Linked DNA regions of Homo sapiens. The protein of the gene in region 2 purifies or fractionates together with the protein of the main gene of each other region. This does not show direct contact. Each region holds a gene or a part of one and is shown on either strand. Other genes may lie near its edges. The genes, in order: KDR, TNFRSF25 and RIPK1.

The links.
Region 1: the proteins of TNFRSF25 (region 2) and KDR purify together in Homo sapiens (affinity purification with western blotting; one study listed by BioGRID). This does not show direct contact.
Region 3: the proteins of TNFRSF25 (region 2) and RIPK1 purify together in Homo sapiens (affinity purification with western blotting, with the first as the bait; one study listed by BioGRID). This does not show direct contact.

The regions. Positions count from the first base shown.
Region 1 is NC_000004.12:55,101,471-55,105,122, forward strand, and holds part of KDR (vascular endothelial growth factor receptor 2 precursor), read right to left. Parts: intron 3,515-3,652; coding exon 3,173-3,514; intron 1,039-3,172; coding exon 892-1,038; intron 559-891; coding exon 427-558; intron 1-426. UniProt on the Homo sapiens protein: Tyrosine-protein kinase that acts as a cell-surface receptor for VEGFA, VEGFC and VEGFD. Plays an essential role in the regulation of angiogenesis, vascular development, vascular permeability, and embryonic hematopoiesis.
Region 2 is NC_000001.11:6,460,155-6,463,194, forward strand, and holds the end of TNFRSF25 (tumor necrosis factor receptor superfamily member 25 isoform 2 precursor), read right to left. Parts: intron 2,994-3,040; coding exon of another isoform or gene 2,974-2,993; coding exon 2,918-2,973; coding exon of another isoform or gene 2,911-2,917; intron 2,817-2,910; coding exon 2,709-2,816; intron 2,513-2,708; coding exon 2,475-2,512; intron 2,021-2,474; coding exon 1,840-2,020; intron 1,609-1,839; coding exon 1,280-1,608; 3' UTR 1,032-1,279; coding exon of another isoform or gene 1,026-1,031; 3' UTR 632-1,025; downstream 1-631. UniProt on the Homo sapiens protein: Receptor for TNFSF12/APO3L/TWEAK. Interacts directly with the adapter TRADD. Mediates activation of NF-kappa-B and induces apoptosis. May play a role in regulating lymphocyte homeostasis.
Region 3 is NC_000006.12:3,081,987-3,085,638, reverse strand, and holds part of RIPK1 (receptor-interacting serine/threonine-protein kinase 1), read right to left. Parts: exon of another isoform or gene 2,979-3,652; intron 2,555-2,978; coding exon 2,326-2,554; intron 381-2,325; coding exon 231-380; intron 1-230. UniProt on the Homo sapiens protein: Serine-threonine kinase which is a key regulator of TNF-mediated apoptosis, necroptosis and inflammatory pathways.

The DNA.
Region 1 (3,652 bases), on a different chromosome or scaffold from region 2:
ATGTATCTATGACTTCCCACTGACCTTCTTTTTTTCTTTTAAGTTCCGGGATACATGTGCAGAATGCTCAGGTTTGTTACACAGGTAAACATGTGCCATGGTGATTTGCTGCACCTATTAATCCATCTCCTAGGTATTAAGCCCAGCATGCATTAGCTATTTTTCCTGATGCTCTCCTTCTCCCCAACCCACAGTAGGCCCCAGTGTGTGTTGTTCCCTTCCCTGTGTCTATGTGTTCACATTGTTCAGCTCCCACTTATAAGTGAGAATGTGTGGCGTTTGGTTTTCTGTTCCTGTGTTAGTTTGCTGAGGATAATGGCTTCCAGCTCCATCCATGCAGCTGCAAAGGACATGATCAGATTCCTTTTTACGGCTGCATAGCATTCCATGGTGTATATGTACCACATTTTTTTTTATCCCACTGACCTTCTATTATGAAAAATGCCTCCACTTTTGCACAGCCAAGAACACTGCATGCCTGGCAGGTGTAGAGGCCTTCGTCCTCCTTCCTCACTCTGCGGATAGTGAGGTTCCGGTTCCCATCCTTCAATACAATGCCTAACAGAGGAAGAAAACGATCATTCTCATTTATGATGATGTAGTCTGTGAAGTTTTTCAGGGAAATTTAGAAAATATAAATGCTGCCCTTCATCTTGTTCTATTATCTAACTCTGTAGAGTCACATGGGATCTACTGCTGACTAATCTCCTATATGGCTTTCATGAAAATTCAACAGGGCCCCATACTCCAATTCTAAGTCTGTGAAATGAGCCAGGTCATGGACACCAATACTGCTTTTTTTCTACATTACATCAAGAAATAATATGGCTTTTTAGATAACATCCCTGGGAAAGTTCTGCAACCCAAGAGTGATAGCCAAATTCTATTTACCTGAGTCTTCTACAAGGGTCTCATTATCTTTAAACCACATGATCTGTGGAGGGGGATTCCCAGATGCCGTGCATGAGACTTCGATGCTTTCCCCAATACTTGTCGTCTGATTCTCCAGGTTTCCTGTGATCGTGGGTGCCACACGCTCTAGACACACAAAAAGAAAATCACAGAACATGGAATTATAACTTTTGAAATGGTTCTGGTATCAGCAAACTTTTAAACAGTTTAAATTTAGTAAAAAGGAACTTGTTGATATATTAACTTCTGGGAAAATACACTGGTCACTGGGTAAAGTTAAATGAAACAAGTCAGTCAGGACACTGCAAACAGATTAATGGCTTTTAACATTCATATTAGTGATACTAGCTGGTAATCCCATCACAAAAGAAAGGTTCAGGGTCACCTTTATGGATTTTTCCTCTAATTAGACACAGCCTCCCCAGGTGAAAACTTCCCTCCCATGAAGATTCTAGTCAATAATACCCTAGAATCCCTTCAAATTTCTCTTGGAAGTGCCAAATTTTAGTATCATTCAACCAATAATGCCTTACATTTATTTGGCAATTCTTATAAAACTTGTTTACACAATTTGTGTTCCTCACTAGTGATCTTATGTAATGAGCAGAATAGGACTGTTAGCGTTATCTCACAGATGAAATAAATGATGTTCAGCGACATTAAACCACTTGTCCATGTCCCTGCAACTAAGTAAACAGTTGAACTGTTTACAGAATCTGGTGAGGCTAAAAGACCAGTTCAGTGCTATTTCCACTAAAACACAAACAAAACAACAATACCCTAAGGGAAGTCTTGGATTTAAAGAAAATGAAGCCCATGAGTATTTGTTTAAGTGTACAAGAACACTTTAGATTTATTCTTTCTTCAGATCATCAAAGTGCTGTGGAAATATCTTGTCCCAACCAACTGAACATCAAAAGGAATCATGCTGAAAAAATCCACGTCAACACTTAGCAAAATGAGATTACCTCAACAGCGTACTACATTGAAGTCTAAGCAAATGTACTGGATTCTAGCCTATTTCTAAGAATAGGTTTTAGGAAAACAAGTTAGGAGTCCTTAGGGAAGCAAAGCAGCTAACTGCGAGCACATATTTTCTGGGCACAGCTAGGCCAGGAGCCTACTTCACATCTCTTTCTCAATTCTGCCATAACCTTGAAGCCAGACAAGCCAACAGAAAATCCATGTGATCTATGTGGTGTGACTTGAAGGATGCTGGGGATGACTTGACCCCAAAGTATCTCTTATTATGACACCTGAGTCTTAAAACTAGCGAACTTTATGCTAGTGTCTGTCAGAAGGTGCCTCTTCAAATACGCCAAGGCCTCTGATGAAGACGTTACCCTCTAAAACTGTGGTATAGATGAATTTACTTGGGCAATTTCCTTCCTAACAGTAAAAAAAAAACAGAGGGCACATATATCCTAGGAATTGGAAAGGGACACCACAAGAGGAGAAAATGGAGAGAAGTGGCACAAAGAGACGCTCCCCAAATTTGCCTGATTTTCCCACAGACAAAGCCATGGCTGCCCAGCTTTTGCACAAGGCATGAGGTTAGACAAGGGGTAGACAGTGCCTCTATGGAGGAATTTACAGAGCTATCTGCTCACTGAAGTGATCGTCCCATTGACCTTGGGCTACGCTGGATCATGTGGGATGACCCAGAGGTACAGACAGTGAATGTAGCTTCCTTCCCATGGAGTCTTCTAGGTCTTAAACGCAGCCCATCATCCCACTCTTCATGCAGCAGGTGCCTTATTGAGCAGTTAGTATATGCTGCTATGCTCTATGACTAGAGCTATAGCAGGGAGCAAAACAGAGAACAATTCCTGTTCTCATGGACACAGAGACCTCACTGTGCTGTGACTTCCCAGTGGTTGCCTATGTTCTCCTCCTTTCCTTCATGTTTACCACTGTGAATTTCTGACACTCTCCTAGCTCATAGCAGGCATTCCACAAATATTTGTCTATTTAAATAAATGGATGCCCAAGATAAGGCAGAAGTTTCCCTGGTTCAAGCTAATATCCCTTGCATATACTAGTGAATTACTCCATCATCAGGTTTTGTTATTTTCTCCTTTCGATATATCATTTCATTATTATTAGCTTCTTTCTTCCTCAAGGACTTTCGGTGAAGAAGTGTGCACCAGTTTACAACATAATCTCCTAGAGGACAGTAATCTTTGCATAGCACCTGAATTGCACTACATTTAAGGCATTCCAACTGCCTCTGCACAATGATCCAGAATTGTCTCCCTACCTAGGACTGTGAGCTGCCTGACCACGCAATGTCTTTTCTTGGTCTTCCTGTCTTGAGCAAGGCAGACATAGTCTCCTTGGTCCTGCAAGGATGCATTCTTAAGCTCCATGATCAAAATGTCATTTGTGCTATTAGAGAACATGGTGGCATTCAATTTCCAAAGAGTATCCAAGTTCTTGCAAACAGGTGTGGGCAACTCTCCCACATGGATTGGCAGAGGCTGTGGGCCAAGCTTGTACCATGTGAGGTTCTCAAACGTAGATCTGTCTGCAGTGCACCACAAAGACACGCTCTCCTGCTCAGTGGGCTGCATGTCAGGTTGCAAAGTAATTTCAGGACCCCCTAAAATGAAGAGGCCATAGTTATTGAATGGTGATTTAACTTGGTACAGCTCACTATCATCTTGCTGCTTTCAGACTACTACAAAGTACCAAAAGAAATGAAGCTCTATCCGTTCCAGGTGATGTACTACAACTTGAC
Region 2 (3,040 bases):
GACTCCTGTCCGCAGCCTCGCAGCTCCGTGGGGCCCTCCGCCCCAGCCCCAGCCAGCCAGGCCCTGGTGGAAAGGCTGGGAGCCGCACAGCCCTCCCCTCCTGCGCTGGAAACCCTCCCTGACCCCCACCCTGGCCCCCCGTATCCCCAGCCCTTGGCAACACTGGAGTGCACACGCCGCCACGGTTGCCCAGAAAAAGTGCCCAAGCTGCTGACGCAAACAACAACAAATGCTGCTTATTTGCATGCCGACTTACATATATTTGCATGTTCGTTGACTATCAAAGAGTGCAGAGCTCTCCCCAGCCCCGTGGGTGGTGACTTTGTTTTCCTGCGGGGCTCAGCCCCCTCCAGGATGCAGCCCCCTCCCCCGCACCCCGGAACCGGCGTCGCTGGCGCATCCTGGGTGGAGGCAGGCCCCGAGCTCGGGGAAGGGGTTTTCCCTTCCTCTCTGACCCAGATCTGCGCGCGGCCTAGCCCGGGCCTCATTTCTTATCCCCGCCAAGGGTTTCCTCTCAGTCATTTGTTTACCAGAAACATGAAAACTGCCTGTCTGGCCGGGCCGCACTTGTGGCCCCCGGGACCCCACCTCTGGCCCCACCTCCCTCAAGTCTGCGCCCCGTCCCCAGCCAGACCCACTCGCTGCCGGGACCCTTTCACTGCCCCGGTGGAGTGAATAGAGGATGAGGGGCCCTGACCCTGTGTCTCCAACTGCTGCACCCCATCCCGACCCTGTCTCCGCCACCTCGCAGCCCCATTAAAGCGCTCTCATCTGGGCTCCGGTTCACTCACTCGCTGTGGCCGCGACTTGCTCTCTCCTTCTCGGGGTAATTGAGCCAGAGTGGACTCGGGAGGGGCAGGCTTGGGAGCTAAGGCCACACTGGACTCCACCATGGGTGCCAGATCCCGGGGTGACAAGATTCCCGTCCCCTTCGAATCCCTCGAGAAAAGTCCAGTCCACTTAACACCCCAGCCCCGCAGAAACGCCAAGAAGCCGTTTTTGTTTTGTTTTGTTTTCTTTCACAGATTTAATACCGCGATCTCAGCCAAACTCCGGCCGAGAAGTTGAGAAATGTCTTCACCCCCTCTCGACATTCGTTCGTGCTTCTTCGCCTTGGCTGGAGCGATAGGGGCGAGCAGGGGTGGGGCCGGCTGGTGCTGCTACGCAGGGCCGTGCCAGCGGCTTAATAAGTGACATAAAATGTCTACACGCATAAGTAACCGTACTTAGGGCTTCTGCAAGGGCCACCAGAGCGCCTAGGTGGCAAGTGGGCGCCGTGTCACGGGCCGCGCTGCAGGCGGCTGCGCAAGTCTTCCACGCAGCCGTCCAGCCCCATGCGCTCCAGGGCCGCGTAAACGGCTCCGAGGCCCGCGGGCTGCTGCTGGCGCCAGCGCTTGAGCATCTCGTACTGCTGGTCTCGGAAGCGGCCGATCTCCACCTCCACGGCTTCGATCTCTGCCTCGCGCAGCCCCAGCGTGCGCACGAACTCCTTCCAGCGCCGCGCTGGGACCGCGTCCATCACGTCGTAGAGCTGCGGGCCCGGCTGCAGCATCATGGCTGGCGAGCCGGCTGGGGACTCTGGCGAGAGTGTGGGCGCAGCAGCGGGGCCTGGGGCAGGGCCAGAGAGAGCCAATTGGGGTACGTGGGCCGCGGTCGGGAGGCAGAGTCAGGGGCGTTCGTGCGGGTACCCCAGGGCTGAAGCCCGCTGGATCCGGTGGGTCAGGGCATAGGGCGGACTCCGTCAGTTAGGGGGCAGAAAGGGAACACGTTGTGAAACCACAACTTCCCACCGCAGACAGGAGAATGGGGTCAAGGCCTCAGGCCACTGATGTCCCTTACCAAGAGCTCTGCTGGGCAACTGGTCCCAGGACCATGTCACCTGCGGGCAGAGCGCCTCCTGGGTCTCGGGGTAGCCAGGGGTCCAGCTGTTACCCACCAACTGGACGGTGCAGATCTTCTCACTGCTGTCAGGAGGTGCTAGAAGGGTGTGGGCGCTGTCCAAGGGTGACAGATGGGTGGCCTGGAAGCCAAGAGGGGCCCCAGGTCAGCCCTGCTTGCCAAGTAAGGCCCCTTACCCGCAGTGCCTCTCCAGGAGGGGACAGTCCCTGGTTCAGTCAGCAGACACCCCCGCAATGACACCTCCCACAGTTGGCCCTGCTCTCACTGTAGCCCAGCAGAACTCTTGCTTCTGCCTTGAGTCCCCTGCCCCCGCCTCCTTCCTCTTGTCCCCCAGCACCATGGGGCTCTCCTTCCATTGAACTGTTAGCTCCTGTGTACGAATCTGAACTCCAGCTGACTGAGCACCCCTTGAGGGCAGGCACTGTGCTGGTCTCATCCACTGATGACTCTGCTCCCAACACCTCTGTCCACTAGGGCTACCCGGTGCTGGCCGCGTGCCAAGCTCCAGGGATCATAGTAAGGCTTGATCTTCCAGCTCCAGAAGGCAGCCCAGAATCACACAGTGAGGTTCTTACCGGTGGTGGGGTCAGAGCCTCCATCCCAGCTTCATCTGCTGACAGACACAGAGAGATTGCGGTCAGCCACCAGGCAAGCCTCCTGGACCTGGGTGCTGGTACAGCTCCTCTAGGGTTCCTCTGCACCCCACACTCCCTGCCTCAGTTTCCCCTTCTGTATCAGGGTTGAGTAGACTCTGGGCTACCCATCCTGACCCCAGGCTTCTGGGTGCGTGTGTGGGTGTGTGTACTTACCAGTAACCAGGGGCTTGTGAGGCCAGCAGTGGCGGTATGTGTAGGTCAGGGTGGCCCCAAGCAGGAGGGGGACCACAAGGCCAGCCAGGAGCACCTGGACCCAGAACACTGAAAGCAGCTGGTGGGTGTTGGGTGGTTGCCCCCCTCCTCACCCGCCTCCCCTCGGTCCATCCCAGTTCTCCCACTCGCATTCCCAGCACACCACCTACTCTGCCTCCAGCCACAGACAGCGGCACAGCGCTCTGGACAGCTCCCCAGGGTGCTCCTGCAAGGGACGGGGGTGGCCTGAGGGATGAGGGGGTGCATGCCAGGAGGGGCTCCCTAAGACTGCC
Region 3 (3,652 bases), on a different chromosome or scaffold from region 2:
AAAGTTAATTACAAAAAAAGGAAACAAGAAGGCCTTATGTGCCATCATGCTTTTGAGAGAGAGGGCTTCTTTGCACTGAATAACATGTTTGAAATCTAGAAAATCAGTTTAAAACCACAAGTCAAGTCGAACTCAGTTTTCTGAGGATTCAAACCAAGTTCCTAACAATATGTTACTAGGAAAATCACCACACAGGATGCATCCTACACAGTCAGAAAAGATGCTCTTACCAGGAAATGTCGGCCGAGCTTCCGGATTCGCTTCCCAGCAGAGCTTCATGAGACTGATAATTTCTCTTGGGCAGTACTCAGTGATGTCATCCACATCTGGCCTGTTCCCAGATTTTATGCACATTATCAACTGCTGCTCACAGATAGCATCTACAAAGCAAAGACTTTCTTTCAGGTCTTGCTCCTCTCTCAGGCAGGAAGGTGACAGAACTTGAACAATACTGCTCATTTTTCTCAGCCTCTGGTACAGCTGCCTCATTCCATAGAGTGGAATGGCCTTATGACAAGGAGCTGACATATTCCACTACAGAGATGACCAAACAATATCTTAATGTCTGCAGATAAAACAAAATTCTCGACAAAGCTGCCTGCTGATGGAACAAAAAGATTATGTGGGCAAGGCCAATGGCATGCTCCATGTGCAAAAGCAAATACAGGGCAGTCCTTGTCTTTAGGAGCTCAGTTTAATGAGAGTGACTTAAAACACAGAGTGATCATTGCTATTCAAGAAGGCTGAGGCTGGGCATGGTGGATCACACCTGTAATCCCAGCACTTTGGGAGGTTGAGACAGGCGGATCATGACGTCAAGAGATCAAGACCATCCTGGCCAACATGGTGAAACCCCGTCTCTACTAAAAATATAAAAATTAGCTGGGCATGGTGGTGTGCACCTGTAGTCCCAGCTACTCGGGAGGCTGAGGCAGAAGAATTGCTTGAACCTGGGAGGTGGAGGCTGCAGTGAGCCGAGACTGCACCACTGCACTCCAACCTGGCGACAGAATGAGACTCTGTCTCACGGGAAAAAAAAAAAAAAAAGGATGTACAAGGGGTTCCAGTAGCACAAACCTGACTAAAAAGGTCCAGGAAGGCTTTGTTGAGTCCAGAAAAATTAGCAGGTAAAGAATGGGAAAGGGAGACTTAAGGAGGAGGACTCCAGGAAGAGAAGCAGGATATCAACAGACTAGAAGTTACAGAGATCATGACGCATCCCACAAATTCCTCAGTGTAACTGCACACTGACAAAGAAGGGAGGGTTAGGGACGAGGCCAGTAGAGAAGCAAAGGCCAGAACATGAAGGCCTTTTATTCCACGCTGAGGAATTCGAACTTCATCCTGAAGACCACAGAGCATCTGGGAAGGATTTCCAATATGTGAGGGAGAGGGTTGCATGTGCCTTTTAGGACGACCATTTTGGCTGCCACATGAATGGTGGACGGTGGAAGGAGCCTGCTGCAGAAACGAGGAGGGTTTGAACTGAGCAGAGGCCAGTGGAGACAGAGAAAGGCAGATGGGTTGCAGATATATCTTGAGTCATACATATATCTTGAATTCACAGGTTTTGAGATCTGATAGAATGTGGGAGAGAGGGGCAAGGGCGAGTCTGGGATGACTCTGAAGTTTCTTATTGGGCAACAACTTGGTAAAAGGATGGCGATGCCACTTCCCAAGCATATGAAGAGGGGTGAAGCGGGGCGAGCTGCAGGACAGTGTCGACAGGATGTGTTTGGGGGATGCTGCTTTGGAGGTTCCTCTGGTACCTGCGATGGATCTGACTGTAAGACAAGTGGATATCCATTCCAGAGCCAGAGACACAGATTTAAGAAGCATTTGCAAAGAGATGATCATCAAACCATGGGAGCTGATGATCACCCAAGAAGAGTATGTAGGACAACATCCATCAGTTTATGCACTTAACAAACTGCAGAGTGTCTCTATCCTACACAAGCCACGACTTACTCATCTTTATATTCCCAATGCCGACTCAAGTGCCCACAGTAGGGACTGAAAAGAAATAATTCTTGAATGAAGGAGCAAGTGAATGAGTGAAAGTATGAAGTGTATGCCTTGTAGTGTGAAAGGCTAAGTCCTCACAAGCAGAAACAATCAACTTTCCTGTCTAGGAAGAACCCTGGAATTTCACAGCACCTCTCCAGCTAATGACACACTATCGAGGTTCCTATTCATCCTATGATCACTGATTCCTAAATGGGATTACTCATTCATTCAACAAAAATTTACTGGGCACCTATTAGTTCCAGGCACAGTGCGTGTAGATGCTGAGGGGACGGCAGTGGAAAGTAAGTAATGCCTTACTTTCATATGGCTCCTTATTTGCAAATATCGCCCAGAGTACTACAGCAAAGCTGTACACATCCGACTTCTCTGTGGGCTTTGCGTTGACGTCATTCAGGTGCTCGGGCGCCATGTAGTAGAGGGTGCCGCCATTCTTCTTAGCGGTGCCGTCCACTTCCCTCAGCTCATTGTGCTCTTCATTATTCAGTTTGCTCCACATCTTAAAGGAGGCAAGGCCGAGGTCTGCGATCTGCGAAAGACATTGAGCCACTGGGATTGTTTGGTGAAGGCCGTAAGCAAATCAGATCTGACTTTCAATTTTGGGCTTATCCATTATACATAAGGTACGGTAAATTTTCCAGAAATGGTTGCACTGGGCAGGTTCAAAACAGCGACTTCTCAACAGACTCATAGAAACTGTGTGTCTCCTCAGCCATTTGTAAAATGTCGCCCAGGAAACGTTCACATGAAATTCTGGTATCGTATTCCTTATGCAGTAAGGGGGAGGGGAAAAGCGGAAGATGTTTCTGACAAGAACAGTAACAACCAAACATATTTATTCTCATTCCCCATTGACTCTGCGTATGTTTTTCAACTATTTCTAGGGCTTGGGGGGAAAATGGTTATTTTCTTCTCTGCACATTTATGCAGCAGACAGTGGCTAAATACTACACCTTCTATTTCCCCAAATGGCGTCCAGAGGCCCATGGATGCAAGTGTCCAAGGATCCCAAAGACACACTGAGGATAAGGACTGCAGTGTTGCTTGTTTTGAGCTGTAGCCTGAACCTAAGAGGAGATAGGGTGGAAAGGAGGAGAAAAACAGACAAAAAAGCAGAGAGAAAAATAGCAAGGTCAGACACAGAACAAGAACAGTGCTGGCAGGGCAAAATGACAGGGCAGCACAGTTCAGAAGAGAATATAGGTGCCAGTTCCACTTCTGCCTCCAGGAATCCAAGCAAGCATGTGGGGATGAACTGTGGCACATGAGTACCTAAAATTCACAGATTCTAACCCACGACATAAGAGGGAAGTCATGAATTTGAAGATAGGTTATGAATAAGGAATTTTTATTCCCAGCCCTTTGTCCAAGACTAGGACAAAGCGCTAGACGCAGAACCTGCTGGTGATGAGAGGCCCCTGTGTCAGCAGCTCCTGGGTGCCTCCCCCAGGGCTGCTTCCCCTTCCGCTTCCCCTTTTGGATTCTTGTGCTTGGATTCCTGCTGCAGAAGCCAATTAGATATGACACTCCCCCTAGCTAAATCCTGCCCTTGAATGAACAAAAGAAAAATCCCTTTCCCTTGTTCCCTTTACGACAATGGAAAGAATGTGTTCAAAGGAAACTGATT